Regions from separate parts of the Homo sapiens genome. Here all the other regions are linked to region 1. Evidence: fine-mapped expression QTL. A gene starts in region 1. Each other region holds a variant in brackets. All regions are shown on one strand. Distances are from middle to middle. Region 1 holds the start of NRCAM (neuronal cell adhesion molecule). Region 2 overlaps NRCAM (neuronal cell adhesion molecule). Region 3 overlaps NRCAM (neuronal cell adhesion molecule). Region 4 overlaps NRCAM (neuronal cell adhesion molecule).

The links. PIP is the estimated chance that this variant, and not a neighbour inherited with it, causes the effect.
Region 2: its variant is the best candidate, but not a certain one, in a credible set for the expression of NRCAM in nasal epithelium (TOPMed, PIP 0.87).
Region 3: its variant is the best candidate, but not a certain one, in a credible set for the expression of NRCAM in cerebellum (GTEx, PIP 0.63).
Region 4: its variant is the best candidate, but not a certain one, in a credible set for the expression of NRCAM in cerebellar hemisphere (GTEx, PIP 0.67).

Annotation. Positions count from the first base shown.
Region 1 is chr7:108,451,690-108,459,796 of GRCh38, reverse strand. NRCAM (neuronal cell adhesion molecule) reads left to right here and starts at 3,361. Exons shown (of 33, transcript NM_001037132.4): 1 at 3,361-3,554.
Region 2 is chr7:108,253,942-108,262,048 of GRCh38, reverse strand. The region is part of intron 3 of NRCAM (neuronal cell adhesion molecule); the gene reads left to right. Among named protein-coding and RNA genes, the nearest start is that of LAMB4, 130 kb to the right of the region's middle. The variant A/G (reference allele first, on the strand shown) is at 3,907.
Region 3 is chr7:108,209,430-108,217,536 of GRCh38, reverse strand. NRCAM (neuronal cell adhesion molecule) reads left to right here. Exons shown (of 33, transcript NM_001037132.4): 12 at 7,932-8,107. Among named protein-coding and RNA genes, the nearest start is that of LAMB4, 83 kb to the right of the region's middle. RefSeq lists enhancers at 5,501-5,710, 5,831-6,030, 5,402-6,096, 5,237-6,436 and a silencer at 6,942-7,099. The variant T/C (reference allele first, on the strand shown) is at 3,588.
Region 4 is chr7:108,197,765-108,205,871 of GRCh38, reverse strand. NRCAM (neuronal cell adhesion molecule) reads left to right here. Exons shown (of 33, transcript NM_001037132.4): 14 at 7,773-7,916. Among named protein-coding and RNA genes, the nearest start is that of LAMB4, 71 kb to the right of the region's middle. The variant T/C (reference allele first, on the strand shown) is at 3,770.

The sequences.
Region 1 (8,107 bases):
GAAGATGGAGTGAGGCTTGGTAATAGGGAGAGGATAAGGCTTAGGGATGGGAAAGGGATAGCAGCAGTTAGGGTAAGGAGGCAAGTTGTGGGTATCACCAGCAAAGTGCAGCCAAATCAGACTGCCTCATGCATCACCAAGCAGATCAAACAGACTGCATTAGAAAGTCTATTTGCCCACACCGCCATCTTTCTAATTGTAGAACATTTTTCTATCCCCACCTCCCATACTCCCTTCATTTCAGCTCCTCTTGAAGCCTCAGTTTGTTCTTCCTGTTGCTCATTCCCTCAGGAGATGAATCCCCAGCAATGTAGAGCTGCAGTGCAGTTGAAGTAATAAGCTGGAAATCAGAACTATATAATAATTTTATATTATTACAATTATTATGTAGTATCAAAATTACTTTCTGTTTTTTGAGACGGAGTCTCACTCTGCCGCCCAGGCTGAAGTGTAGTGGTGTGATCTCGGTTCACTGCAACCTCTGCCTCCTGGGTTCAAGTGATTCTCCTGCCTCAGCCTCCCCAGTAGCTGGGATTACAGGCACACACCACCACGTGTGGCTAACTCTTGTATTTTTAGTAGAGACAGGGTTTCACCATGTTGGCCAGGCTGGTCTCGAACTCTGACCTCAGGTGATCCACCCACCTCAGCCTCCCAAAGTGCTGAGATTACAGGCATGAGCCACCGTACCCAGCCCCAAATTACTTAATTTTAGTTTTTGTTTTGTACTATCACTGTGGTTCCTATCTTCTCCAGAGCTTTTTCTCTTCTGGCTTTGTACTTTTTATTCAAGCATGTATTTACATTACAGACATCTTATCAAATAATTACTGCTTAAACTAGAATTTGCTGAGCACCTATTATGTCCTAGATACTGTCCAGTGCTTTCTTACAATAACCTTATGTATTAAGTATTGTTACTCTACCTGTAAAGGTAAGGGAAACTATACCTGAGAAATCATCACTCACATAAAAAAAAAAGAGAGAGATTCTATTCATGTCCTTATTCTTTCAGCAACCCCCAATAGCCTAAGTAGTCTCCCAGGCATCAGGACTAACCTGGACTTCACCAGGACCAAATATCGTCTGCCTCAACCTGGCTTCATAGACCAGGACTGGAGCCTGAAGAGAAAGAACAATTCTAAGCAGAAGTTCAAGGAGCTGTTTAAAGAGGGTCTTTATGAGATTGTAACACAGGAAGACACAAGCAATGTTGCTTCAGTGCCCGGGGGATAAATTACTACACAGAACCAGGGCAAGAACTGAAGAGAGTAGGGTGTCATTTTCCCACTTGACAGGTTTGCCCTGTGGCATTCACTGGAAAATAATGTGGACCAGAAATCAATGTTTCTCAGTGGCCGGGGTGAGGGGCAATCTTGGAAAACCAGAGTACGAAGTAGAAGGACATGGGAAGGACAGGCAAGACAACCCCAGGATTCTCAGCAATTACTGCAGTGGGGAAGGAACGGAGGGGCCTCAAGTCCTTTACACAGGGCAAAATGATGGGGCAGTGAGAGTTGATTATGGTTATCTGTGGCTTCATTTGTATTGATGAGAAATGTGGTTACACAAAAATAAATAAGACAAATTGTCCTCAAAGAAGTGAAATTTTATGGAGTCAGACATGCAAACAGATCATTAAAAGGTGACCAGCACTATTATAATAGTCCTTACAGAGGAGGTAACAACCAAGTAAGGCTCTGAAGGATGAACAAGAGTTTGCCAAATGAAAAAGAGATGGACCAATATTCTAGCTAGGAGGAACCTCACATGCAGAGGCTTAGAGTTATGGAAAATGGAGAGATAAGTTAGGAGCAGATTGTAAAGAGGCACACCAGGAGATGTGGAATTTACTTTGTAGGCAATAGAGAACCAGCCCACCAGCCCAGACTTTCAAGTAGGGGGATCATGGAATCTTTTTTTTTGCGGGGGGGAAGGTATTTTAGAGGAAAATTTGGACAATTAGTTGAGAGGTGCAAGGTACCACCTGAATGGCAGTTGGGTAAGGACTAGAGTCAGAAGAACCACTGATGGGACTGTGGAAACAACTTGTGCAATGACCCAGCAGCCAGATATCATGCTGGTTCAGGAACCGAGGGAGGCTCTGTGAGGCCAGAGCACATTTGGCTGGAGAAGGAGGAGAGGATGGCAGTAGAAGGAGAAGGAAAAGAAGGCTGCTCACTTGCATGCAGATGCTGTGAGCTGACGGGGCAAGTTCAAATTGAAGTTAGAACAGACCACTGGGGTAGTCAAGACCTTGAAGGATGAACCTGTTTCTTTTTCATTCCTGAATCTTGCCCCAGCACCTTGGAGGCTGGGGGTGGAGGAGGTGGTGAGGTGGGGTGGGGTGGTGAGGAGCTCAGAAAATGTTTTCCTGAATTAGAGAACTGAAGGAATCAAGGCTCCGCTGAGCTCACTAAGCGCTGGAGCCTGCTGTAAGTGGTCAAGTCGGGTGATACCCAGCAGACAAGTAATTTGTGTGCAGACCGGAGTAGATTACGGAGGACCCAAGGGTCAGGCTAAGGATCCTGAACACCATCCACGATAGAGTGGAGACGTGCGCTTCGGAGCCTGAACTATGCAGCAAGCAGTGTGTTTACTCAAATACTATACAGTTGGAAAATCTTAATTCTCGATTTACATTGCCAAAAAAAAAAAAAAAAAATCTCCATAATACTCCCCCATTTGTAAATAAGCAAATCCGAACTAACCCTATTCCTTGGGACCAGAAGACCCAGTTTCTACCGCGGATAGATAGCATCCGCCTTATGCTAAAAGCTCTTTTTTCTGCGGTGGTGGGGGGCGGCGGGGAGTGTTTGGAAAGAACGGTTGCAAAAACAAAACAAAACCCCCAAAACCACTCACCCAATCTCAACCACCCCAACTGATGAATTTCGAAGAAAGTGCTTTTTAAAAAAGAAAAAACTAGAAGACCACAGACCTCCCACAGAAAGCTAAACCCATGAGAGTGGCATTCAAAAACTACCCATTTTCTGGAACATCTTTTGTAGCTAAATCCCAGCCATCCTAGCCCCGGAACACTCCCGCCCTCCGTCCCCGCACCCCCACCCCCGCCGCCACACGCGCTCGCAGGCTGACGGAGGTTGGCGGTGGGGCGGCCGCTCAGGTGAGGGGCCACCCAGTCCCTCGAGGCGCCGGCGGCTGGAGCCCATTCGCTGCCGTCGCAGCAGCAGGGCAAGAGGGGGTTGGCCAGGAGGGGAGGAGGCGGAGGACGCCCGCAGGGAGTGCGGGGGAGGGGGACGGGAGGACGCTAAGGAGAGCCGGGAGGGGCAAAAGCACGGCGCGGGGAGGGGGAGCGGAGAGGGCGGGAGCGGCGGGGGCGCGCGCCGGCGCGGGGCCAGCCTCGCTTCGCCAGGGTCGCTGGCGGACGCGCGCCGCAGTCCGAGCCTCAGACGCGCGGGCGCGGGGGACGGCGCAGGGGCCGCCTGGCTGGAGCAGCCAGAGGGGATAGCTTCGTCGAGAACGGAGGACACCGGCGGTCCAGGGTCCTGGGCAGTCGCGCCAGAGCTGAGCGGAGGGCGCGGCGCGAGAACGTAAGTAGCTCCTTGCGCGTCTGGCGGTGACACTGGGTCCTGCTCGGGGGTGACGGCTGGAGCGGAGGAGGACGCGCGAGGCTGCTGCGTTGTCACTTGGACACCGCCGCGGGGTTCAGCCGAGCGCTCACCGGGCTGGCAGCGCTGCAGGAGGGGCAAAGCAGATCTCCAACTCCCTTCTCCCCTGCAGGCCCCCGACACTCCCGCGGGCGCCGAGAGGGAGCAGGGGGACCTGCGCTTGGGTGAAGGCACAGCTGAAATCCAGCAGCGCCGGCACCCACCACCCCCTCCAGCCTGTGGCCAACTTCTGCTCCGCGCCCGCACCCCACGCTTTCCGGGAAGCCCTGCCCAGAGCTCTTGCTCGTGGGCAGTTGGGCATGGAGAGCCTGCGGGCCCGGCACGGCGGCTTCCCGGGCTTGGACACGGAGGCGCGGGGCGTCACGCCACAGTGCCGGCGGGGCGAGGAGCGCGGGGGCCGGGCCGGGAGCGCACGGGCGTGTGCCTGTTCGGGCCCCTGCGGACACGTCTGGGCGTGGGCTTTGTTCGGAAGTGCGTACACCTGTGCTGACCACGGAGTTCGGGGGCGAGGCCGACTTCGCTTCTCCAGTCGCTGCCTGGAGAGGGCTCGGGGAATCGAGGCGGAACGAGAGAGACACGGAGGACAGAGGGGTGGGGCGCTTGCGGGGGCTTTGTCGGCCTTACAGGTGCGGGTCCCGGGAGTCCCTGCGCCCCGCCCTGCCTCCGAGGGCTGGGACTTGTCGGGGCCGGCGCACCGGGCTGGGGGCTGCCTGGAAAGATTGCTTTCCCAGCCCAGGCTCTTAGCGGTGGGATCTGGCATCCGCTCCGCCCGGGATGCTGTGTTGAGCCAGGAGTGATTACCCGCCCTGGAGCATCCATCTCGCAGCGAGCGCCATCTGCGCCGAGCGCCGCCCCCGGCCCCCTCCACGCCGCGCGGGTGGGCGCTGCCGCATCCTGGTCCCAGGCGGTTGGCCAGCTCAGCTACTCCCGGCCCGCATCTGCTAGAGTGCGGAGGGGGACGGGGTGTCGCAGTAGGGTGAGCAAGGGAGTCGTCATTTCTCCCAAAGCGGTGTCCTCAGGGCCGCAAGCGCTGCTGGAGGGCTCCCCGGGCCCCGGGGCTGGCGAACAGGCCGCTTCCTTCCCCGGATCGCCTCCCCTCCCGCCCGCGCCCGCGGCCACATCTTCGTCCCCCGTACGCTGGCGGGTGGCCCCTGCGCCGCGGGCACCGAGGGAGGGCGCCGAGCGGTGGCGTTTCTTTCGCACCCCGCCTCTCTCCTTCCCTTTTCTTCGCATCAGGGGCTCCAGCCCTTGGCTACCACCGGCGCAGAACTGTCCTGAGAAGAAAGCTTTCTTTTCCTTTCCGAGTCCCAGATGGTTAACGCTCAGAAGTGCGGGTCTAAGAGACTGGGCTCTTCCTCGCCCCAGGCTTTTGCAGGAGGAGATGGAGCCAAGTGTAATGAGGCAGGAAGCATTGGTTGTGCACCAGGAGCTCCCCCTGGGGTGGTCCTGGAAAGGAACACAGTAACCTCTGAATACAAACCTCGGAGGCTGGGCTGCTTTATGGGACTGCATTGTGCTAACCATGCCCTGCTGTTAAAATATTGTAATAATGGCAGTACTTGCTGAAGTACTGAAATGGAGTTAGGCAACTGATACTTGCTGCTTTAATGGTAACGATAGCCAACCGGTTTTGAGAGCTTTAGATGTGCTGGGCGCTGCGCATGTTACATGTATCATCTCATTTAATTCTCACAGCAACCCCATTTTAAAAATTAGGAAATGAAGGCTTAGAGAAACCAAGTAACTTTCCCAAGGCCACACAGCTAGGAAGTAGGGGAGTGGGATTGTTTTTGTCCTTGTGCTTTACAATCCAAGACTGAGACTGTGGCCTTTTGGAGGCTTATCAGTTTAGGGGAAACCTAAACCACTGAGTGTTCAAAACCAGGGAGATACATTACAAGCCCATTTAATTCGGAGCTCTGCAGAACTCACAGTAGCAGGCAATATTGTGATTCAGAGAACTGTATTGTGGAATAGCCTTTTATTCCCATGTAACTCCTTTACATATTCTTTTATTCCTGTTAGCTTTTAAGTACGTGGCTGTTAACCCACAATCCAACCCATTACAGTCACTGAACAACATGTTCTTAGTAACCAGGGCCTCTGTGATTACATAGATGTTCCTGGCACATCATAAAGTTTCATAAAACTTTTTTTTCTTTAAAGAAAAGGTCCCCAGCCCTGAATGTCCTTTGTACACGGTTTTGACTGCAAATGAGTTACTCCTCAAATTGGATGTTGAGTTTGAATAGGACCCTAGCATCCAATCTTAGGAAATCATTCTATTTCCTAAATATATAGAAACATGTGGGGGCATTTATGAAGATGCTCCATGTTAACTAGTAAAAAAGGAAAATTTGAACCAAAGTGGAATCAGCTATTTCTGGAATAGCTTTTAGAATTATAATTAACTGATCAATTGGAAAAATTGATTTATTTTGCATTCATAATCCTACTGACTCATAGTCTTGTTTCAACCTTCTTTTTACTTTATTACAGGAAAGTTGCTAAACATTTTACATAATCCAGGAATTTTAGAGCTGTTAGAGGACTCAGGCAACATTGTATCTAACTAATCCTTCGAGTTTCAAAACAACTGCAATAGGGCTCAGCCTCGTAATGCAGGGTAGTGATGAGGTCTTTGGACTGAAGGCCATTGCCCTTACACCACATCATTTTTGTTAATGCTACGGTAACAGTGAATAGAAAGCAAAGCATCTTTGGAAATAGTACTTCCTGTGAGGCCAATACAACAATGATGGCAATAATCGCTAGGTGTAAGTGCTTCAGAAGTGTGAGGGGGTCCTGAGAATGTATACACCTGGGCTGTAGAAAATTTCAAGAATCATTTCAAATAATGCTTTCATGCAGGTGTAATTTTCCCTGTGTAACAGATTGAATATAAATAGACTCTACAGATATTATATTGTGTATGTACATAGGAGCTGTTGAATGGAACTCTACAGGAAGCTTTTCCGTTAAAAAGATTTCATTCATTCATTCCTTCATTCTTTAATAAATATTTACTGTGTTCCAGGCAGTGGGGATACAGTGGTGACCAAACAGAATATCTGTCCTTGGGAAGATTAATTCTAATTTTATCATCTAGCTACATACTTCATCACACAGAGTTTTTTTCACATATCACAAATGCATAGCCGATGAACTTGCACAAACTGAACACATTGACTTAACTAGCACTCAGATCAAGGAACAGTGTAATGCACATCTGAGAAAGCCCTCTTGTGGTCCCTTCCAGTCATTACTCACCCCAAAGGGTAACCACTGAGGCACTGAGGCTTTTTCCTTATATTCTCACCATAGATCAGCAGCTATTGGAATCTCATCCTCATTTTCAAAGAGTACCTACCATCTGAGAAGCTCGGTAACCCATAGCAAATTTAACTGGAATGTAGAGCTTCTAACATATTCTTTAGGAAGTTTTGTGCATTTGAATCAAAAGACTGCTTTACTTCAGTCTTCAGCTGTTGCAATGATTGATGAAGAGGAAGTGATTTGAAAATTACTAAATACATTTAGATATGCTTTTCCCTTAAAATTTTATGCTTCCCTACCTGAAGCATCCCTTCCAGGAACCTTCCTGGCAGGTGAGGACAGAGGAGAGAACTGGATGCTAAGGGCAAAAATCCAGTGACTTATTTTACTTAAACATTTTACTGCCTTGGCAAATGAAAAGCTCCTTCTGTTTAAAACAGCCTCTATTGGGATCAAAGGCTGAAGTTTCTTCCCCCCCCCACAGCATTAATGAGATATAATTGACAAGTAAAAGTTGTATACATTTAATATGTACAACATGATATTTTGATATATGTATACATTGTGAAATGATTACCACAATCAAACTAATAAACACATCTATCACCTCACACAGTTAATTTGTGTATGTGTGGTGAGAACATCTCATCTCCCCAATTCCCCTACCCACTAGCAATCACCATTCTACTCTCTGCTTCTATGAGTTTGACTGAAGTTTCTAAGAATAGGAAGATGTACCAAAATGAATTGACAAATTTTTATTTTTTCTCTTAAAATTGAAGGCTACCTGAGGAAGGAAATAGGGGAATGGCTCAGCCTTCAGCGTCAGCAACTGTAAATCCTTCATTATCAGGTTGTCTTTAAATGGGGCAGCAAATGCAATATGTTTATTTAAAAAATGTTTTTGCTAAGTTTTTTATTGTAAAATATATATGACATAAGATATGCCATTAAACTATTTCTAAGTGTATACTTCAGTGGCATTAAGTACATTCACATTGTGTGCAGCCATCACCACTATACCTCTCCAGAACATTTTTTGCCTTCCCAAATTGTAACTCTGTACACATTAAACAATAGTTCATAACCCCTCAGCCCCCAGCCCCTGGCAACAAACATCCTACTTCCAGTCTATGAATCTGATGACCCTAAGTACCTCATATGAGTGGAATCATACAGTATTTATTTGTCTTTCTGTA
Region 2 (8,107 bases), 200 kb after region 1:
AGGGGGAGTGGAAGAAAGTGAGGGGAGGAGCCAACAGAAGCCTGTGTCATTGCATTGGCTGGTTGATCCCAGTGGACTGGTGAAAGGGTTTATGAAGTGTTTCAGAACTGTCTGCCAGGGGATGAAATGGAGTGCTTTTATCCACTGACTCCAGATCTTCACTGGTCTAGACTGGCCCTCACAAGACTAACTCCCCTGCACTGCTGGGTTGTGCTTGAGTGCAGAGTGGATTTCTAGAACTATTAACCAAGATTAGAGATGGCTAGGGCAGGAAGCAAGAGATCCCTATGAGGGTCAAGGTGAGGCCACTGTCCTAGAGCACCTGTGCCAAGCTGCTCAAAGCCTCCAGGAAAACAGGTGTCTACAGCTGTGGCTGAAATAAGAGGAACAACCCAAGAGGACTTTGAAGTGGTGCACACGAGGGGTCCAATACAACAACTCTAATGGGGATGTCCTGTCTTTTTGCCTGGAAAGAAGATGCTAAAATAAAGAATTCCCTGGAGTGTCTTTGGCCTTTCAAGTCTATGATTCATGGAGATAAAACCAAAATTTGCTAAAAATCTGTTGATTAATAAAATATAAATAGACACAGCAATAACATTTGCTAATTTTATTCTCCAAATGATACCTGTCAGCTGTAGACAATGTGTGGAGCAAAAGAGAGCTATACTATCTACTTACTGGACAACAGACCTAACTTAGGCGGTGGTGATATATGCTGAAAACAAAGAGAGCAGTGCTTGGGCTTCAGGAAAATCTAGTGGAAAGTTGAGTTTATTGATCCTTAGGAGCACAACCTTTACCTGGGTCTTAAGTGGGTTTTATAATGATTAGGAAATCTTATTAAAGAAGAAACTTCGGAAGGGGTTCTGGGTGCTTTTAGAACAAAGGAGAGGACATAGGGAATATTTCCAAGTCAGCTTGGACCCAGACAAAATTATAAAGTGGATTAAGTTTGTTTTCAGCCCCTTTCTGTCCACCATTTCTCCTCATGTCCCCACATTCACTTCCCCTCCATCAGTGTCCCCCTTTAGGAACCTAGTACCTAGTATCATACTGGCCTGCTTAGATGCCTCTATGCAATCAACCAGTTGATTCTTATTGATACTTCCAATGTACCTAGAACCTTGCCAGGAATTGAATATGAGAACACCCCACATAAACCTTCCCCAAATGGCCTATCCTCCAGTCTCAAGTCCTGCCCATGATGGTAGATAATTTAAAAGGCTAATTTATATACATTGTGCCCAACACCTGTTTATGCACCACTCCAGAGCCTCGGCCTCCCCATCTCTTGTTCCAGCTCTGTGTGGGCCCCAGCCAATTTCACACCAGTACCCCTCTCATCTCCCACCCAACACTCCCATGTTGACATCACTGCAGACTCCACTAATGCCCACGCTCTGGAATGCACAATCCAGAGGAGCAAGGGGGTGAATCTTAGACCAAGCACATCCCGGGAGTAAGTTCTTCTCCCTTTCCCCACTCCATCACAGGGCTGGTTCTGAGCTCCCATTTATCCACCTTCTTGGGAGTGTGGTCTGTGGATTGAGCAATCAGTCACACTCGGCAGCTCAGTACTCCTCCATATTGGCTCTCCATCCTTTCCAGCATCTCTCCCCTTGTACCTCATTCCTCCCTAAGAGTATAGTCCCTGATAAAATAACAACCCATTCATTTTTTTCAATAAATACTCTTTAGGTGTTTACTGTGGGCCAGGCACTGACTCTGGCACTGTGAGTACAGAGATGAACTTTTATATTCAATGACTTATCTGATATTAGATGTTTTCTCAGAAGCCATATTGTTTAATGCCCTTTCTTGGACGTCAGGAAATTCTGGCCACGTGGTGGAGGGCTCCGCTTGCCTGAATGGGTTAAGGATTAGAAATGGTTTGAGAAACGGAATAGGAAGCAAAACTAGACAAAATCTCTCAGGACCAGGTTCTGAAAGCAAAGATATCAGGCACTCTTCCTCATGGAAATTGTCTGAGCCTCCAGACAATTAAGAGGTTTATTTTTCAAAAAGCTTTTTTAAAAATTCAAATTTTATTTTAAGTTCTGCGGTACATGTGAAGGATGTGCAGGTTTGTTACATAGGTAAGTGTGTGCCATGGTGGTTTGCTGCACTTATCAACCCAACACCTTGGTATTAAGCCCTGCATGCAATAGCTATTCATCCTGATGCTCTCTCTCCCTCCACCCGCCGACAGGCCCCAGTGTGTGTTGTTCCTCTCCCTGTGTCCATGTGTTCTCATTGTTCAGCTCCCACTTATAAGTGAGAACATGTGGTGTTTGGTTTTCTGTTCCTGCAGTAGTTTACTGAGGATAATGGCTTCCAGCTCCATCCATGTCCCTGCAAAGGACATTATCTCATTCCTTTTTATGGCTGCATAGTATTCCATTGTCTATATGTACCACATTTTCTTTATCCGATCTATCACTGATGGACATTTGGGTTGATTCCATCTCCTTGCTATTGTGAATAGTGCTGCAACAAACATACACATGCATGTATCTTTATAATAGAATGATTTCTATTTCTTCAGGTATATACCCAATAATGGGATTGCTGGGTCAAATGGTATTTCTGGTTCTAGGTCTTTGAGGAACCACCACACTGTCTTGCACAATGGTTGAACTAATTTACATTCCCATCAATAGTGTCAGAGCGTTCCTGTTTCTCCACAGCCTCACCAGCACCTGTTGTTACTTGACTTTGATTTTTAAAAAGGCTTGTTAACCAATTATTCAACAGTTCATTTAGCAAATTTGTATGGATTTAAGTGGTACTTCAAGAAGTTCACAATTTATGGAGTAAAAGAATCAACACTCATTTTAGGAAGTGATGAGTATGCTTATAAAAGTACACGAGTTCTTTAGGAGAGGGTTAACAAAGACATTTTCCTCTAGAGAAACTCTGTCCAATAGAATTTTCTGTGATGATGAAAATGTTCCACGCTGTGTTGTCCCAACACAGTAGCCACTAGCCAGCCCCATGTGGCTGTTGGGCACTCAAATTGTGGACAGTGTGACTGAGGAACTGGATTTTTAATATTCATTAATCTTAATTTGAATGTAAGTAGCCACATTTGACTAATGGCTGCTGTTTTTGACAGTGCAGTTCTAATGGTTGACATTTTAGTGGAGTCTCCAGGAATAAGTAGGTGTTATCCAGGCCACAAGGAGGATAGGAACCAAGTAGAAAGTGGAGAAAGCAGACTGGGTCGAGAGAACAACAGTGAACATGGACATCAGAGTGCTTGTTTGTTAGGCTTTTGTCACCATTTACTAAGGGTCCACTAAGCTCCTGCCACATCGCTATGCTCATTCCATATTTATCTCAACAGCCCCGGAGGTAGGTAAATTAGCCCCGTTTTACAGGTGAGGAAACTAAGGCACACAGAGCTTGTTGAACATAACCAATGCAACACAGCTTGTAGGTGACAGCACCAGGATTTAAGCTAGGCTCTGACTCAACAGCCTATCCTCTTTTTACTTTATCATTTTCCCCCACGTGGGTCTGTCACATGGGAAATTTGGGCTTCATGTCCTTATAGGCAAAACTGTTCTGAATTGGGGTCTTTCCCTAGACAAGAATGTATGGTGTAAAAAGAAGGAGGAAAAGGAGTTGAGAGGGCTGGTCAGAAAAATGAAGGGTGGCCCATGGGACCTAAGCTGGAAAGAGAAGGAAGTGAAGAATAGAATTTTTGGAGAGTGGGAATAATGTGGAGCTGAAGGACCAGGGGCAGGAGGAATAATTAAGAGAAAGCACCACACGCAAGGCTGTTGTGGTCAGAGGGAATTATTGCCATTTTAGCGGGCTTTCAGCCAAAGGACAACCTGGAGCATGTTTCGGCCCTGAAGCTGAGGGTGTTAACTGCTGAAGGAAACTGGCAGAATTTCC[A/G]TCAGAGCACACAGACAGCCACCTCCTCCAACAGGCAGAGACCCAGACTCCTCTGTGTGAGGAAATGGACTTCTCAGAAACTAAGTCTGAGCTTGCTTTCTTTTATAAATCTCTACTTTTGGTGGCTTATTTTTGCTTAGGAAGATAGAAGTCAGTAGCGTTGACTTTGAAAAGTGTTCATAATCCTCAGCATGCCCGGTGAAGTGGAGACAAAGAGGAGGCAGTGTGGCACGTGAAGAAGAGAAGGGTGTGAACGCTCTCATCTGAGACGCTTGATGAAACTGATCCTCTCTGCCTGACTTAGGTTTAATAGCTCACATACCTGTGAATGTGAAGTTAAAAGCAATTTTGATTTGAAATCAAGGTTATGTAGAAATGAGTCTTAATATATCATAAAAATCATTTCAAGAAATCCTGAAAATTGTCACGAACCCTTATTAAGGAAATTGATTTGCAGATGATGATAGAAATAATTTTTTCATGAAAATGACAAATGTAGCTTATTTTCATTGACATTTATTTTCATTAGAGTAGGCTGCTGTCTACACTTCTCTTAAAACCACTCTTTCAATAATACATTTAGATTCATATGCTAATATATCTGCCATTTCTCTCAGTATCGCTTAATACTCTGTGTTTAGAAACAGGTATATTGAATTTATACTGGGACTAGAGTATTATATTTGAAAGCACTTACCCGGGGCAAAGGCTATGAATGTATCCTCTGAAAGGTGTCTTGATTTGGAAAGCACAGGATGTTCCAGTTAACTTTCTTATTTATAGTTTTTTGAAGTATAACTTATATACCACAAAATCTACCCATCTTAAGTGTAGTTTGGTGAGTTTTAGTGCATTTTTAACAGCAAACTTCATCCCAATCTAGCTACAGAACATGACTGTCGACTGACAAAGTTCCCTCCTGCCTGTTTATAGTCAGTCTCCTCTCCTACCCCAGGCCCCAGCAGCCACTAATCTGTTCTCTGATTCTATAGTTTTGCCTTTTCTTCCTTCCTTCCTTTCTCTTCTTTTCTTTTCTTTTCCTTCCTTCCTTCTTTCCTTCCTTCCTTCTTTCTTCTTTCCCTCCCTCCCTCCCTTCCTTCTTTTCTTTTTCTTTTTCTTTTTCTTTTTTTTTTTTTTCGACAGTCTTCCTTTGCCACCCAGGCTGGAGTTCAGTGGCATCATCTTGGCTCACTGCAACCTCCACCTCCCGGGTTCAAGTGATTCTTGTGCCTTAGCCACCAGAGTAACTGGGATTATAGGCGTGCACTACCACACCTGGCTGTATTTTTAGTAGAGACTGGGTTCTGCCGTGTTGGCCAGGCTGGTCTCAAACTCCTGATCTCAAGTAATCCGCCCGCCTTGGCCTCCCAAGGTGCTGGGATTACAGGTATGAACCACCATGCTGGCTATACTTTTGCATTTCTAAAGATTTCATATAAGTAGAATCATAGATGGTCTTTTGGGTCTGGCTCCTTTTACTCAGCATAGTTGTTTTTTTTGTTGTTGTTTGTTTTTAGTATTTATTGATCATTCTTGGGTGTTTCTCGGAGAGGGGGATTTGGCAGGGTCATAGGACAATAGTGGAGGGAAGGTCAGCAGATAAACATGTGAACAAGGGTCTCTGGTTTTCCTAGGCAGAGGACCCTGCGGCCTTCCGCAGTGTTTGTGTCCCTGGGTACTTGAGATTAGGGAGTGGTGATGACTCTTAACGAGCATGCTGCCTTCAAGCATCTGTTTAACAAAGCACATCTTGCACCGCCCTTAATCCATTTAACCCTGAGTGGACACAGCACATGTTTCAGAGAGCACGGGGTTGGGGGTAAGGTTATAGATTAACAGCATCCCAAGGCAGAAGAATTTTTCTTAGTACAGAACAAAATGGAGTCTCCTATGTCTACTTCTTTCTACACAGACACAGTAACAATCTGATCTCTCTTTCTTTTCCCCACATTTCCCCCTTTTCTATTCAACAAAACCACCACCGTCATCATGGCCCGTTCTCAATGAGCTGTTGGGTACACCTCCCAGACGGGGTGGCGGCCGGGCAGAGGGGCTCCTCACTTCCCAGAAGGGGCGGCCGGGCAGAGGCGCCCCCCACCTCCCGGACGGGGTGGCTGGCCGGGCGGGGGCTGCCCCCACCTCCCTCCCGGACGGGGCAGCTGGCCGGGCGGGGGCTGCCCCCCACCTCCCTCCCGGACAGGGCGGCTGGCTGGGTGGGGGCTGCCCCCCACCTCCCGGACGGGGCGGCTGCCGGGCGGAGACGCTCCTCACTTCCCAGACGGGGCGGCTGCCGGGCGGAGGGGCTCCTCACTTCTCAGAGGGGGCAGCCCGGCAGAGACGCTCCTCACCTCCCAGACGGGGTGGCGGTCGGGCAGAGACACTCCTCAGATCCCAGACGGGGTCGTGGCCGGGCAGAGGCGCTCCTCACATCCCAGATGGGGCAGCGGGGTAGAGGCGCTCCCCACATCTCAGACGATGGGCGGCCGGGCAGAGACGCTCCTCACATCCCAGACGATGGGCAGCCAGGCAGAGACGCTCCTCACTTCCCAGACGGGGTGGCGGCCGGGCAGAGGCTGCAATCTCGGCACTTTGGGAGGCCAAGGCAGGCTGCTGGGAGGTGGAGGTTGTAGCGAGCCGAGATCACGCCACTGCACTCCAGCCTGGGCAACATTGAGCACTGAGTGAGCGAGACTCCGTCTGCAATCCCGGCACCTCGGGAGGCCCAGGTGGGCAGATCACTCGCGGTCAGGAGCTGGAGACCAGCCCAGCCAACACGGCGAAACCCCGTCTCCACCAAAAAATACAAAAACGAGTCAGGCGTGGCGGCGCACACCTGCAATCCCAGGCACTCGGCAGGCTGAGGCAGGAGAATCAGGCAGGGAGTTTGCAGTGAGCCGAGATGGCGGCAGTACAGTCCAGCCTCTGCTCCGCATCAGAGGGAGACCGTGGAAAGTGGGAGGGGCAGGGGGGGGAGGGGGAGAGGGAGAGGGAGAGGCTCACTCAGCATAGTTTTGAGGTTTCATCCATGCCGCATGTTGTTGCATATATCAGTAGTTCATTCTTTGTTATTGCTGAATACTTTTCCATTATATGAATATACCACATTTTGCTTATTCTTTCATCCGTTAATGGGCATTGGATCTGTTTACAATTTTTCATTATTATAAATAATGCTGCTATATACATTTGCGTACAAGTCTTTGTGTGGTTATATGTTTTCATTACTCTTAGGTAAAAGAGTAGAATTGCTGGATTGTATGGTAAGTGAGTGTTTAACTTTTAAGAAATTGCCAGGTTGGGCATGGTGGCTCATGCCTTTAATCCAAGCACTTGGGAGGTCCAGGTGGGTGGATTACTAAAGCTCAGGAATTCGAGACCAGTCTGGGTAATATAGTGAAACCTGGTCTCTACAAGTAATAAAAAAAACTAGGTGGGTATGGTAGAACATATGCCTGTGGTCCCACCTACTTGGGAGGCTGAGGTGGGAGGATGGTTTGAGCCCAGGAGACAGAGGTTGCCCTTAGCTGAGATCACGCTATTATACTCCAGCCTGGGCAACAGAGCTAGTTCCATCTCAAAAAAAAAAAAAAAGCAAAATTGTTTTTTCAGAATGGCTATATGTTTTTATGTTTCCATAGCAATATGTGAGGATTTCAGGTTCTCCACAGCCTCACCAACACTGGACATCATCAGTCTTTTTGAATACAGCCATTCAAGTGGGTGTGTGGTAGTATCGCATTGTGGTTTCAATTTGCATTTCCTTAATGATAAATGATATTGAGCATCTTTTCATGTGCTTGTTAGATATTTGTATATCTTCTTTGGAGAAATCTCTAATGAAATTTTTGTCCATCTTTTTATTGACTTGTTTTGTCTTCTTAGTTTTTCTACATGTTGTAGATACAAGTCCTTTATTAGATATATGATTTGTAAATAGTCTGTGGCTTGTCTTTGCATTTTCTTGTTGGTTTCTTTTGAAGAGCAACTGTTTTTAATTTTGATTATGTTAAGTTTATCAGTTTTTTTCTTTTGGTGTCATAGCTAAGAAATTTACCTAACTAAGGTTGCGAGATATTCTCTTATGTTTTATGCCAAGGATTGAAAAACTATTGACTTTTATTCTTTAGAACAATAATTAACAATCGCCTGGACGCCACAGCCAGGGATTTGGCAGTCTCTGGTAGCTTTGTGGTTTCGTGGT
Region 3 (8,107 bases), 240 kb after region 1:
CTGGGGGAAGGGGCAGCTGTGGGCGCAGCTTCAGCAGATTTAAACATTCCTGCTGCTGGCTCTGAAAAGAGCAGCAGATCTCCCAGCACAGTGCTCGAGCTCTGCTAAGGGAGAGACTGCCTCCTCAAGTGGGTCCCTGACCCCCGTGCCTCCTGACTGGGAGACACCTCCCAGCAGGGGTCGACAGACACCTCATACAGGAGAGCTCCGGCTGACATCTGGCAGGTGCCCTTCTGGGATGAAGCATCCAGAGGAGGGAACAGGCAGCAACCTTTGCTGTTCTGCAGCCTTCGCTGGTGATACCCAAGCAAACAGTGTCTGGAGTGGACCTCCAGCAAACTCCAGCAGACCTGCAGCAGAGGGCCCTGACTGTTAGAACAAAAACTAACAAACAGAAAGAAATAGCATCAGCATCAACAAAAAGGGCGTCCACACAAAAAACCCATATGAAGGGGTCACCAACATCAAAGACCAAAGGTAGATAAATCCACAAAGATGAGGAAAAACCAGTACAAAAGGTCTGAAAGTTCCAAAAACGAGAATGCCTCTTCTCCTCCAAAGGATCACAACTACTCACCAGCAAGGGAACAAAACTGGACAGAAAATGAGTTTGACGAATTGACAGAAGTGGGCTTCAGAAGGTGGGTAATAGTAAACTCCTCTGAGCTAAAGGAGCTTATTCTAACCCAATGCAAGGAAGCTAAGAACCTTGAAAAAAGGTTAGAGGAATTGCTAATTAGAATAACCAGTTTAGAGAAGAACATAAATGACCGGATGGAGCTGAAAAACACAGCACGAGAACTTCGTGACGCATACACAAGTATTGATAGCTGAATCAAACAAGTGGAAGAAAGGATAACAGAGATAGAAGATCAACTTAATGAAATAAAGTGTGAAGACAAGATTAGAGAAAAAAGAATGAAAAAGAATGAATGAAGTCTCCAAGAAATATGGGACTATGTGAAAAGACCAAACCTACGTTTGATTGGTGTACCTGAAAGTGACAGGGAGAATGGAACCAAGTTGGAAAACACTTTTCAGGATATTATCCAGGAGAACTTCCCCAACCTAGCAAGAGAGGCCAACATTCAAATTCAGGAAATACAGAGAACACCACAAAGATACTCCTCAAGAAGAGCAACCCCAAGACAAATAATCATCAGATTCACCAAGGTTGCAATGAAGGAAAAAATGTTAAGGACAACCAGAGAGAAAGGTTGGGTTCTCCACAAAGGAAAGCCCATCAGACTAACAGCGGATCTTTTGGCAGAAACCCTACAAGCCAGAAGAAAGTGGGGGCCAATATTCAACATTCTTAAAGAAAAGAATTTTCAACCCAGAATTTCATATCCAGCCAAACTAAGCTTCGTAAGTAAAGGAGAAATAAAAATCCTTTACAGACAAGCAAATCCTGAGGGGTTTTGTCACCACCAGGCCTGCCTTACAAGATCTCCTGAAGGAAGCACTAAATATGGAAAGGAAAAACCAGAACCAGCCACTGCAAAAACATAACGAATTGTAAACACCATCGACACTATGAAGAAACTGCATCAACTAACGCGCAGAATAACCAGCTAGCATCATAATGACAGGATCAAATTCACACATAACAATATTAACCTTAAATGTAAAGGGCTAAATGCCCAAATTAAAAGACGCAGGCTGGCAAATTGGATAACGAATCAAGACCCATCAGTGTGCTGTATTCAGGAGACCAGCCTCATGTGCAAATACACACATAGGCTCAAAATAAAGGGATGGAGGAATATTTACCAAGCAAATGAAAAGCAAAAAAAAAAAAAAAAGGCAGGGGTTGCAGTTGTAGTCTGATAAAACAGACTTTAAACCAGCAAAGATCAAAAAAGACAAGGGTATTACATAATGGTAAAGGGATCAATGCAACAAGAAGAGCTAACTATCCCAAAAATATATGGAGCCAATACAGAAGCACCCAGATTCATAAAGCAAGTTCTTAGAGACATACAAAGACACTTAGACTCCCACACAAAAATAGTGGGAGATGGCCAGGCGCGGTGGCTCATGCTTGTAATCCCAGCACTTTGGGAGGCTGAGGCGGGTGGATCATGAGGTCAGGAGATCGAGACCATCCTGGCTAACATGGTGAAACCCCATCTGTACTAAAAAAAATACAAAAAATTAGCTAGGCATGGTGGCAGGCACCTGTAGTCCCAGCTACTTGGGAGGCTGAGGCAGGAGAATGGCGTGAACCCAGGATGCGGAGCTTGCAGTGAGCCGAGATCGCACCACTGCACTCCAGCCTGGGTGACAGAGCAAGACTCCATCTCAAAAAAAAAAAAAAAAAATAGTGGGACACTTTAACACCCTGCTGTCAATATTAGACAGATCAGTGAGACAGAAAATTAACAGGGATATTTAGGACTTGAACTCAGCTCTGGACCAAGCAGACCTGATAGACATCTACAGAACTCTCCACCCCAAATCAACAGAATATACATTCTTTCCAGCACCACATCACACTTATTCTAAAATTGACCACATAATTGGAAGTAAAACACTCCTCACCAAATGCAGAAGAACAGAAATCATAACAGTCTGTCAGACCACACTGCAATCAAATTAGAACTCAGGATTGAGAAACTCATTCAAAACCACACAACTACATGGAAACTGATCAACCTGCTCCTGAGTGACTACTGGGTAAATAACGAAATTAAGGCAGAAATAAATAAGTTCTTTGAAACCAATGAGAACAAAGACACAATGTACCAGGATCACAATGTACAGCTAAAGCAGTGTTTAGAGGGAAATTTATACACTAATGTCTACAGGACAAAGTGGGAAAGATCTAAATTTGATACCCTAACATCACAATTAAAAGAACTAGAGAAGCAACCGAAACAAATTCAAAAGCTAGCAGAAAACAAGAAATAACTAAGATCAGAGCAGAACTAAAGGCGATAGAGACATGAAAAACCCTTCAAAAAATCAATAAATCCAGGAGCTGGTTTTTTGAAAAGATTAACAAAATAGACCACTAGCCAGACTAATAAAGAAGAAAGAGAGAAGAGTCAAATAGACACAATAAAAAATGATAAAAGGGATATCACCACTGATCCCACAGAAATACAAACTACCACCATATAGAGTATAGAGAATACTATAAACACCTCTACGCAAATAAACTAGAAAATCTAGAAGAGATGGATAAATTCCTGGACACATTCACCCTCCCAAGACTAAACTAGGAAGAAGTCAAATCCCTGAATAGACCAATAAGAAGTTCTGAAATTGAGGCAGTAATTAATAGCCTACCAACCAAAAAAAGCCCAGGACCAGATGGATTTACAGCCAAATTCTACCAGAGGTACAAAAAGGAGCTGGTACCATTCCTTCTGAAGCTATTCCAAGCAACAGAAAAAGAGGGTATCCTCCCTAACTCATTTTGTGAGGCCAGCATCATCCTGATACCAAAACCTGGCAGAGACACAACGAAAGTAGAAAATTTCAGGCCAATATCCCTGATGAACATTGATGCAAAAATCCTCAATAAAATACTGGCAAACTGAATCCAGCAGCACATCAAAAAGCTTATCCACCACAATCAA[T/C]TCGGCTTCATCCCTGGGATGCAAGGCTGGTTCAACATATGCAAATCAATAAACATAATCTATCACATAAAGAGAACCAGTGACAAAAACCACATGATCATCTTAATAGATGCAGAAAAGGCCTTCGACAAAATTCAACAGCCCTTCATGCTAAAAACTCTCAGGACTATTAGTAATTGTTTTATAAATTTAGGAGCTCCATTGTTAGGTGTATATATGTTTAGGATTGTGATATTTTCCTGTTCGACAAGGCCTTTTACCATTATATAATGTCCTTCTTTGTCTCTTTTAACTGCTGTTGCTTTAAAGTTTGTTTTGTCTGATACAAAAATAGCTACCCCTGCTTGCTTTTGGTGTCCATTTGCATGAAATAACTTTTTCCACTCCTTTATTTTAAGTTTATGTGAGTCCTTATGTGTTAGGTGAGTCTCCTGAAGGCAGCAGATAGTTGGTGGTGAGTTCTTATCCATTCTGCAGTTCTGTATCTTTTAAGTGGAGCACTCAGGCCATTTACATTCAATGTTAATATTGAGATGTGAGATACCCTTGCATTCATTGTGCTATTTGTTGCCTGTGTACCTTGGGTTTTTTATTTTTTGTTTTTGCTTTTTGAATTATATTTTTGTTTTATAGGTCCTGTGTGATTTATGCTTTAAAGAGGTTCTGTTTTGATGTGTTTCCAGGATTTGTTTTAAGATTTAGAACTCCTTTTAGCAGTTCTTGTAGTGGTGGTTTGGTAATGGCAAATTCTCTCAGCATTTGTTTGTCTGAAAAAGACTGTATCTTTCCTTCAAATATGATGCTTAGTTTCGCTGGATACAAAATTCTTGACTGATAATTGTTTTGTTTGTGGAGGCTGAAGATAGGGCCCCAATCCCTTCTAGCTTGTAGGATTTCTGCTGAGAACTCTGCTGTTAATCTGATAGGTGTTCCTTTATAGGTTACCTCATGCTTTTGTCTCACAGCTCTTTAGATTATTTCCGTCATCTTAACTTTGGATAACCTGATGACAATGTGCCTGGACATCTTTTTGAGATGAGTTTTCCAGGTGTTCTTTGTGCTTCCTGTATTTGAATGTCTAGGTCCCTAGCAAGGCCAGAAAAGTTTTCCTCGATTATTCCTCCAAATGTGTTTTCCAAACTTTTAGATTTCTCTTATTCCTCAGGAACACTGAGTATTCTTAGGTTTGGTCATTTAACATAATCCCAGACTTCTTGGAGGCTTTGTTCATATTTTCCTATTCTTTTCTCTTTGTATTTGTTGGATTGGGTTCATTGAAAGACTTTGTCTTCAAGCTCTTAATTTCTCTCTTCTACTTGTTCAGTTCTATTGCTGAGATTTTTCAGAGCATTTTGCATTTCTATAAGTGTGTCCAATGTTTCCTGAAGTTTTGATTGTTTTTTCTTTATAGTGTCTATTTCCTAGACTATTTCTCCCTTTGCTTCTTGTATTGTTTTTTGGATTTCCTTACATTGGGCTTTGCCTTTCTCTGGTGCCTCTCTGATAAGCTTAATAACTAACCTTCTGAATTCTTTTTCAGGTAAATCAGGGATTTCTTCTTGGTTTGGATCCATTGCTGGTGAGCTAGTGTGATTCTTTGGTGGGTGTTAAAAATCCTTGTTTAGTCATATTACCAGAGTTGGTTTTCTGGTTCCTTCTCATTTGGGTAGATTCTGTCAGAGGGAAGGTCTAGGGCTGAAGTCTGTTGTTCAGATTCTTTTGTCCCATGGGGTTTTCCCTTGATGTAGTACTCTCCCCGTTTTCCTATGGATGTGGCTTCCTATGAGCCAAGCTGCAGTGATTGTTATCTCTCTTCTGGGTCTAGCCACCTGGCAAGTCTACCCATCTCCAGGCTGCTATTGGAGTTTGTTTGCACAGAGTCCTGTGATGTGAACCATCGGCCTCTCCACCATAGATACCAGCACCTGTTCTGGTGGAGGTGGCAGGGGGTTGAAATGGACTCTGTGAGGGTTCTTAGGTTTGGTGGTTTAATGTTCTATTTTTGTGCTGGTTGGCCTCCTGCCAGGTGCTTTCCAGAGAGTATCAGTTCTGGTAGTATGGAGAGGAACTGGTGGTGAGTGGAGCACTAGAACTCCCAAGATTATATGCCCTTTGTCTTCAGCTACCAGAGTTGGTAGAGAAGGCCCCTCAGGTGGGGGTAGGGCTAGGTGTGTCTGAGCTCAGACTCTCTTTGGGTCTTGCTGTGGCTGCTGTGGGGGAGGGGGTGAGGTTCCCAGATCAATGGAGTTGTGTACCTAGGAGGATTAAGGCTGCCTCTGCTGAGTCATGCAAGTTGTCCCTCTGCTGAGTCATGCAGGTTGTTGGGGAAGCGAGGGAAATCCAGCAGTCACAGGCCTCACCCAGCTCCCACGCAAACCAAAAGGCCAGTCTCACTCCCACAGTGCCTACCCTAACAGCCCCAAGTCTGTTTCCAGGCAGTGGGTGAGCGGGGCTTGAGAACTTGCCCCAGACTATCCACCTCCCAGCGGCAAAAGAAAAGGGCTTAGTTCTTCCCCAGCCTATGGAGTCTGCATGCTGGATTCATGCCCTTTCCCGAGTTCTGGCCAGGAGGTTTCTCGTCTGGTTCAAATTGTTATAAAGTTCAGCTGGAGACTTCCTTCTCCCTGTGGCATTTTCCCCACACCTCTGGCTGCCCTCCTGAAGGATCTCTGTGGTGCCAGGCAGGAATGGCCTGCTTGGGGACCCAGCGAGCTCCCAAGGCCTTTCCTGCTGCTTCCTCTACCCCTGTATTTCACTCAGCTCTCTAAATTGACTCAGCTCCAGGTAAAGTCAGAAACTTCTCCCACAAACCAGTTTTTCACTTCTGCAGTTTGGGCACTCACAGTATTTGGGATATCTCCCGGGTCCTGCAGGAGCAGTCCAATTCCTTCAGAGAGTCTGTGAGTCCTTTCAGCAGGTTTGTTCTTGCAGTTATTCTGGAGCTAAAATTCACGATGCAAGCCTCCACATGCTGCTCTGTCCATCCGCATCAGAGCTGCAATGTAGTTCTGCCTCCCATCTGCCATGATGATCCCTTCTGGGCTGAGCTGTTCTTATTCAGAGTCACTTGCATTTCTATTGACAAATATTGTTATCTTCCTGAGGGCCTGGACCATATTTTCTTCATCATCTTCCCAACACACAGCTCAGTGCTTGGTGTATAGTTCAGTACTTAGGAAATTTTTGTGTTGAATGGATTTTTATTTTACCTTCATGAAAACTTTCTAAAGTCATTAGTTCAAGTCAAGCATTATTATCCCTATTAAGGCAACTAAGGAAACTAAGCCTCAAAAAGATCAGAAATCCAGGGACAGGGTTGGAATTCTAAAGATCTTCTAACTCCAAGCCTATATTCTGACTTTTCATCTGTCTCCATATTCCATGACAATAAAAAACACAGTTGGGACCAGGCGCGGTGGCTCACGCCTATAATCCCAGCACTTTGGGAGGCTGAGGCGGGTGGATCACAAGATCAGGAGATCGAGACCATACTGACTAAAACAATGAAACCCCATCTCTACTAAAAATACAAAAAATTAGCTAGGCATGGTGGCGGGCACCTGTAGTCCCAGCTACTCGGGAGGCTGAGGCAGGAGAATGGCGTGAACCTGGGAGGCGGAGCTTGCAGTGAGCTCAGATCGTGCCACTGCACTCCAGCCTGGGTGACAGAGCAAGACTCCATCTCAAAAAAAAAAACAAAACAAAACATTGGGTGACAAATGGTATGAGTAATACCTAAGTTTGATCTATTCTTAATTAGTGTAATAATATTTTTAAATGTCACTAATAATGAAACTAAGGAAAAAAAGCTCTTTCCCTTATTACTTAGTTAACATCATCAGATAGACTGCTGTAAAATAGGAAAATTATTCCATTTGATATGGAAATGTATACAAAGGTTTATGGTCATAGATATGTTTATGAGTTTTTCTCTGTACATGTTTAATCCCAGCTGATGAAAAATTATAATTCAGTATCATTAATATAATAGTAATTCTTTTGATTAACATAGTAGCTTCATGTAAAAATTTCCAAGAGTTCCTTATTAGTCACAACGTTGAAAAAAATAATTAGGCCCCATCAGTAAAGCAACTCATGCTGGCATTCATACTGTATCATTGACATCGAAGTTTATGGTGTGCCATCAATTAGTATAGTTCTGATTATGTGAAAACGTAAAACTGTGAGCATTATTTATAAAAGTGTGGTGCTAATTAAAATATCTATGTATTTCTTATGATTTTTTAATAAAGATTTGTTACAAAGTTGCATGAAAATTCATCCTCAAAAGTAGTCATAGGTGGATTCCTTTTTTGTAACATCATTATTTATTTATCCTATCAGGCCTACCCCAATTATTTACTGGGCAAAGGAAGATGGAATGCTACCCAAAAACAGGACAGTTTATAAGAACTTTGAGAAAACCTTGCAGATCATTCATGTTTCAGAAGCAGACTCTGGAAATTACCAATGTATAGCAAAAAACGCATTAGGAGCCATCCACCATACCATTTCTGTTA
Region 4 (8,107 bases), 250 kb after region 1:
TGAGCCTGTAATCCCAGCACTTTCAGAGGCTATGGCGGGCGGATTTCTTGAGTACAGGAGTTAGAGACCAGCCTGGGCAACAGGGCAAAATCCTGCTTCTACAAAAAAATCAACAAAAAATTAGCTGGTACAATGTATGATTTTCTCAGGAATGCATACAAAATGGCAATAAATGATGATACATGCTTGATACTTTTGCACCATGTTTTGCAGCTCAGAGTTTTTGTGTCCATTTATGGAAGTTTAAAAGTGTCCCTGAGATCTAGACTCAGTGAAACTGACAAGTGGAAGGAACCATCCATCTAGCCCTTCAGCAGGGAAAATGGGGAAGCTAGGGGATAAACCCTCAAGCTTGGCAGCCAGAGTGCAATACTATGCAAGGAAAATTGAGATGTGGGTGGATGACATAAGCAGGGGAGGATTAAATAATGAAGCTGATTTTTCTTCTTGATTTGCTCAGCTTGTTGTCCTTCCAAACCAGCCATCTTAGTCCATTCCTGCTGCTATAACAAAATGCCTTAGACTGGGTAATTTATAAACAACAGAAATATATTGCTCACAGTTCTGGAGGCTGGAAAGTCCAAGATCAAAGAACCAGCAGATTTCATGTCTGGTGATGGCCTGTTCCTCACAGATGCTGCTATGTGTCCTCACATGGTAGAAGGAGCATACGGGCTCCCTCAAGACCTTTAGAACAGCACCAATCTCATTCATGAGGGGGAAACCCTCATTTCCTGATCACCTCCCAGAGACCCCACCTCTTAACCTTGGAGTTAGGTTTCAACATGAATTTTGGAGGGACACAAATATTCAGACCATAGTACCAGAGTATGCAGTGCCTCTGAGGGAACCTTGTAAATCCAGTCATCTTAACAGCTTTGAAAATACACTCATAACATAATAACACTCCCCTTTTAAATTACATTTTTGTGGGGAGAATCAACCATAAAAGGCCTGCTTTGGGGGTACAGAGTAGTAATAGCAGAAAGAGTAGTTCCTCTTGTAACCCTAAATTGTCTGAGTAGGTAGAGAAGAAAGAGTTAGGACTAAATGTCTCAAATCAGATCAGCTCATCTCTTCCATCCCAAAAGTCTTCTTTAAGGCCCCCTGAGACAGAAAAAAGGAGACTGAGAAGACAAGGCTGGAATTCCATAGCTCCTATAGATCCAGGGTCGCTCACCCTCTGGTGTGCCTCAGAGCAGTCACTCTAGTGGACGTGCAGGGAGAGGAATACCACATGGTGTGGCAGCAAAGCAAGGAGCCCGGCACCACCAGGCCGCTCCGTGGTGCTGGTAGCAGGTGCTGCATGTTTATACCAAGGTACTGTGAAGCTTCCCTGGAAGGGGTCTTTCTCGACATCTGGTGGCCAAGCTGAAAGTGGATTACCATTTGGACATCTCATAACTAAAAGATGATGAGCCAGCGGGGCCTCTGCACAGCTTTCTGCACGATGACCCTGCAAAGGTACAGCTGTGCCCTGCCCCTGGCCTTCTGCAGCTGGCCCATCTGCAGCTTCTGCTGAGTGGCCACATGGGTGGATGCTAAGTCTTCAACAGCTAAGTTCAAAGTGAACCCTGCATGCCCCCACTGTGTGTTGATCTCCCCTGATCCAAAATAATGAGAGAATGAGGGGGGTGCAGAAACTATCCAAAACATTAATAGACATTTAAGGAGCCCTGTGCCGCTCTCTTTTTCATCCCCTTCTTGGTAATTGTCCCATGAATTTAGAGGCCCCTGAAGGGAATTGCCTTTGAGGGTTAGGGACCATCCTGGAAACGGAGCACCAGTGCTTGCTTCCCATCTGGAGTTTGCTGACTTGTGCACCCCACATCTAGCACGGCTGGGAGACGGGGGAAGGATGACAGGGAGATGCAGAGAGGTGAAGGTAGGAACTGAGGGCACAGTCTGCCACCATGTGTGACAGGGCTGAATTAGCACAATGAAGACTCCTTGCCTTCATCATGGGGTCCTAGCATAGGCGCCAGAAGTGAGCTGGGAGCACAAGCTGGCTTGCTGACAGCACTTTCTATCCAAGAGACTGCAGAAATTGCAGGTGGACCAGCTGCTGCGGGTGAGGCACAGGAAACAGCTGTGCTTCTGAACTACTGTTGTCAGGGGCTGTGCAGTGTCCCCTCCAGGTGCCTGAAGTTTGTCTCCTGTGCCACACAACAGAGATACAGTCAGGGGACCATACTGCCAGGTACACAGCCTCCCCACTCCTGACTTGCAGGCGAGCACCTAAGGACACTGACTGTCTCCTTTCGCCTCTGCAGGCTCTGGCTGCCGAGTGCACATAAATACTGTAAAAGGAGAAGCTGGTTCAGGGAGGGGAATGGTAAGAAGGGTTCTTTTAGCAAAATGCAATGTTATTGATCTGTGACTGCATTTAAGACCTGAAAGCTGTTGTTTTAAAAAAAAAAAACTGGAAAAATTAACTCCAAAAGTGTCTGGGCTTTTATTTCATTGTCTCCTAAAGCTTTACCCTTCCCCCATCCCCAGGACTGGCCAGATTACTTAAAGCTTTCCTTGAAGCAAAAATTACAGGCTGTATTAAATAAATGTGGAAATTTCCCAAAACCACCTAAAATAGTTTTAAAACAATCTACAGAAGTCAGATAAAAGAACACAGCTGCAGAGAACTAGTGCTGAAAGAGAGCTTTAATTTTATTGTGTAATGGGAGGGTGTGAAAATAGAACCCAGGACCAGAAAGAAAATGAACTTGCTATTGGCAGGATGGGGCAAAGCATTTCCCTGCTCTACCCTAGGAGGTTGCTTTTCAGGACTTCAAAGCCACACTGAGGGGGGTGTTTTTGAGTTCCTTTTTCTTCCTCTTGGTCTTCCCCACTGGAGAGCCTGTGCCATTCTGGTGGTGGTGCCCAAGGCTGTGGCCACTGTGATTCCTATCTCTGCAGGAGAGTCTAACACTTGCAGATCCTTGATAGTTTCCAGCGTGCGTTGTATTAGGTCTGTCAGACTCTTCTGCATGAAACGTGGATAAGATCACACCGTTATTGTGTTAAAAGGCCCCTGTCCTCTCAGGGATGAGGAGGGAAAAGAACTAAGAGAATGAGAATGGGCAGAAGACCTCTTCCTGGCACTGTGACATATTTTTCTCACAATGAAAGATGTTGAAAGCCAGGAATGTAAGATAAGCACCAGGAGAATGGAGGACTGGTCCAGGATATTCCTGGGATTTCATCAAGGCATCCTCCCTTCTTCCTTTTCACAAAACTAAGGGGCTCAGTGGCATCCTCTTGTAGGGATGGAATAAGTAAATGAAGAGGGAAATTTAACTCTTCTCCCAGAAATGTGTTCTACATTATGCCCAAATGTTCACGTTCCAGGAAATGTTTACAAAGTTGACTAACTGAGAAAACCTGAGCAGTAACCTCATTTGAACAAACCAGTACATGCTGCCATTTGTAGTCTCTCATCTCCAAAATGCATAAAATACTATATGATTAGCCTGTTTCACAAAGTTCTTTTTAAAATGAAATTATGCAGTAAATGTAAAAGCATTTTAAAGATTGATCGTACTCTGTTCATGTAAGATGGCATGATTATTATTATTATTCTCATTATCTATATGTTGAAAGTGTTTATATTTTTACCTACCAACATCAGGAGAGTTGGGTTATAAGTATTTTCTGAAGGCCATCACCCCAGTTCTGGACCTTATCTTTGTGGCTTTAAGTTATTTGTAGGGATTCTGTGCTTTTAAATTTCTTTCTCCAGTGTTTATTGACAGCAGATGAAGTTGGTTATTCC[T/C]AGAATTAATGATTATTCCTCTGGATAATTTGGATTTGCATGCTAGAGAGTTACTCTACCCACTAGCCAGCCCATCCAAAGGCTCCAAATGTCTCTACATTAGTGATTTTACTCTGTGTCCAGCTACCAACCGAGCCTCCATATGTCACCGTGACAGTTCCTGGGTTTGTTTGCATTTTTTAAACAAGTACTTAAGGAAAACTCCCATGGAGAGAGGTCTGCTTACTCATTGTTATTACCTAAAGGGTTTATTTTGTTCCTAAATACCTTGCCAAAAATAAATATTTGAAGACTGCTCTATTTAGCATATATAAGGCAGATACAGTCAGATGCCTTTCAGGTAAAAAAATACCTTCCCAAAGAGTTGATAGCAAAGAAAAGTGCAACTGAGAGCAACAGAAAAGCTTTCTGACATGGTTTGTTTGTGACTGATGAGTCTCCACTTGGGGAAAATTGTCCTACTGACATTGTTGAGCTTTGCCCTCCAAGTTCATGGTCGTGTAACATTATTATTATTATTGTGGTAAAAACACATAACAAAATTTACCATCTTAACCATTTTAAGTGTACAGTTCAGTAGTGTTAAGCATTTTCACATTGTGCAACAGATCTTCAGAACTAGAGCCCTTTAGCCATTAAATATCGCGTGGTGGTGTAACTTTTAAAAACTCAATACATTTAAGGAATTTGAGGAACTCTTATGTAGTCTGCCACCCATCCAGAGAGATTCGGCCCAGAGCTCTGCCTGGGATTCATCACAGTCTAAAATACACAGCCACTCTATTCCACTGCCTGGAACATCCACAGAGATGCGGTCAGGGTGGGCACATGGTGGGCACCGAGAGTGCCCTGAAGAGTCCCAGCACTGAGAGCCCAAGTGCTGGGTCCAGAAGTGCTAAGAATCTTTTTCTTTTTTTTTTTTTTTTACCGACCTTAAAAATTTAGTTTGTTTCTCTACTTTATTCTTGTATTATTTTTTATTTCCATAGATTTTTGGGCAACAGGTGGCATTTGGTTACATGAATAAGTTCTGAGATTTTGGTGCACCGGCCACCCGAGCAGTGTACACACTGTACCCAATATATAGTCTTTTATGCCTCGCTGCCCCCCACACTTTCCTTTGAGACCCCAAAGTTCAATATATCATTCTTATGCCTTTGTGTCCTCATAGCTTAGCTCCCACTTATGAGTGAGAACATATAATGTTTGGTTTTCCATTCCTGAGTTACTTCACTTAGAATAATGATCTCCAATTCCATCTAGGTTGCTGTGAATGCCATTATTTCATTTCTTTGTATGGCTGAGTAGTATTTCATAGTGTGTGTGTGTGTGTGTGTGTGTGTGTGTGTGTGTGTGTGTGTGTGTATTTCTTTATCCACTCATTGATTGATGGCATTTGGGCTGGTTCCATATTTTTGCAATTGCGAATTGTGCTGCTATCAACATGTGTGTGCAAGTATCTTTTTTATATAATGACCAGAAGTGCTAAGAATCACTGACAGAGAACAAGTCTCCAGAAATGCTGCTTTGTGTTCCAGCACCCCTTGATGAGGCAGTAGGTGAGCATCACTGAGACTGTGTGAGTCAGGCCCCAGTCATACAAGACTTGGGATCTGGGACACATGGGCTGCCCTAAGTTACACTGCATTTTCAGGGTCCATGGCTGCCCTAAGGTACACTGTGTTTTCAGGGTCCATGGCTGCCCTAAGGTACACTGTGTTTTCAGGATCCATGGCTGCCTGCCACAGCTACAGTTCCCTTTCTAGGCCAGTGTGTCATATCCATCCTCTGCTGTCTTTTATCAACGAATCTATATACCCTGTTGAAGGAATTATGACTTGTATTTGTCTTTGATTTGGAAGAACATGTTCCTTAAGGCAATTTTGAAATTATTAGAGTCATAAATAGGAGATGTAAGCTAAGAAGTCAATTCAAAGTATCTCGACACCCCCACATAACTAGTTGAACAACCTGGAGTATCTAAGATGATTTCATAAATGAGTTACTGATGGTAATCAGAGTGTTGAACAACTGCTTTTTTGTTACATTTTTCCTTGGGAATGAAGACGTTAATCAGTCCATGAGGAGTAACTTGTAAGTTAGAGTTTTAATAATCCTTGGATGCTAAAAACTTATTCTGAACTTAAATGTATGGCGAATTTTTAAAATATTCTAGTCTAAAACATCTAAAAGACTTTTAGGCTATAAATGTGATACAGTATGTGGTAGACAGAATAATCCCTCCTTCTACCCCACCCCGCCATGATGTCTACATCCCAATCCCTAGAAACTATGAATATGTCACCTTACATGGCAAAAGGGAATTTGCACATGTGATTAAGGTTAAGGGCCTTGAGATGGGGAGGTTATCCTGGACTATCTAATTTGGGCCCAATTTAATTACATGAGCCCCCAAAAGCAGAGTGCCTTTTCCGGCTTTGGTTGGAAAGAAAGGTGACTATGGAAGAATGATCAGAGAGATGCAACATCGACAGCTTTGAAAATGGAGGAAGAGGACCATGGGCCAAGGAATGTGGGCAGCCTCCAGAGGCTGGAAAAGGCAAGGACATGGATTCTCCCCTAGAACCTTCAGAAAGCGACGCAGCTCTGCTCACGCATTGGTTTTAGAGCAGTGTGACCCATGTCAGACTTCTAACCTACAGAACTGTATGACAGTAAATTTGTGTTGTTCTAAGCCACTACATTTGTGGTAAGTTGTTACAGCAACCGTGGAAAACTATTACAGAATGAGGGAGCCAAATACTTCGAGTTTGGGTCATAAAACAAGGATGTACTATGGTTTGGTTGATTTTTATTACAGTGGGTTAATAAACCACAGATGAAACAAATTTTTTTTTATTTTAAAAGTGATAAAAGAGTCTAAATACAGTGATGAGTGTGTCTTAGATGCACATCCTTTTCCTTTCACCAAGGAAAAAGAAATGGTGCTTAGAAAGAACATAAAGTCTTCTTAAATGCTTCAAGTTGCAGGAGCAGTTTAAGAGAAAAGGTGCTGTTATTTAGTTTTGATTTTGATCATCGTGCTGAGACAGAGACCTAAATCCCTCTTAGTGTACTTCTAAAGCAATATAAGCTCAAAGCCTAAAGTGTATCGTTCACAGAAAGGAATTCATCTCCAATCTCACAGAAGTTCCAAATTGCTGGGCATGCCCGGGACTAAATCCTCACATACTGTGTTACCCAGCCAGTTCTATTCCACTTCAGTAAGGATCAAGCCTGTTCCTAACGTTTTAATACTTGAGAGATTTAGCTGAAAACATTGTCTTCAAGAGGAATTTACACAATTTATTTATACTTCAGCTTCAAGAATATCCACAGCAGAAAATTAAATATTTTCACATTTGGTTATTAGCCCCGTAGTGTTTATGTATTTGTTGATTTATTTATGTCAAGAAGAGGCTCCTAAAAGGAACAGGTTTGAACAAGCTGGAGTGTTTCTATATTTTTTACTAGCTTTTGCTATTTCCTCTTGATCGTTAACTTTTTTTCTCCTAAATAACCACAATCTCTTGAACACGGCAATGTTTTCCTGAATTTGTAATGCAATTTTCACCTAAACTTGTAAGAGTTTTTTTTCTGCATCTCTCAAAATAATACTTGGTGTTCAACATGGCACATGTATACATATGTAACAAACCTGCACATTGTGCACATGTACCCTAAAACTTAAAGTATAATTAAAAAAAAGATACAAGGGGCAAGTGAATGGAAAGGTCTTTAAAAAAATAAAAATAAAAATAAATAATACTTAGTGTTACAGAATCAATCGACTTAAGACTAAATGAATATTGAGCACATACCCTTGCTAATATATAACTCAATTCTGAGAAGGAAAATGTTCTGGTTTCTGCCTAAATTCTAGTCTTATTCTTACTGCATGTACTTAGAGCAGTCTTTATTTATGTCCTACTGACTTTACAAGCTTAATATACATCTTTTAAGCAAATAGGAATAAATACTTTCTATTTTTACATCCAAACAGTTGCCCCTGATGACCCCAGCAGAAAAATAGATGGCGATACCATTATTTTTTCAAATGTTCAAGAAAGATCAAGTGCAGTCTATCAGTGCAATGCCTCTAATGAATATGGATATTTACTGGCAAACGCATTTGTAAATGTGCTGGGTAAGCTCTCATTTTATTAAAGACATGGCAAATTAAATTAATGACTGCTGTTATTTTCTGTTCAATCAGCAAAAATATATTGAGCATCTACTATGTGCAATGCACAGTACTTGGAGCTATAAGGGATGGATAAGATATAAACCTTGCCCCAAAGAATATGGCAGTCTTAATGTTCTTCCATAACACAGTTT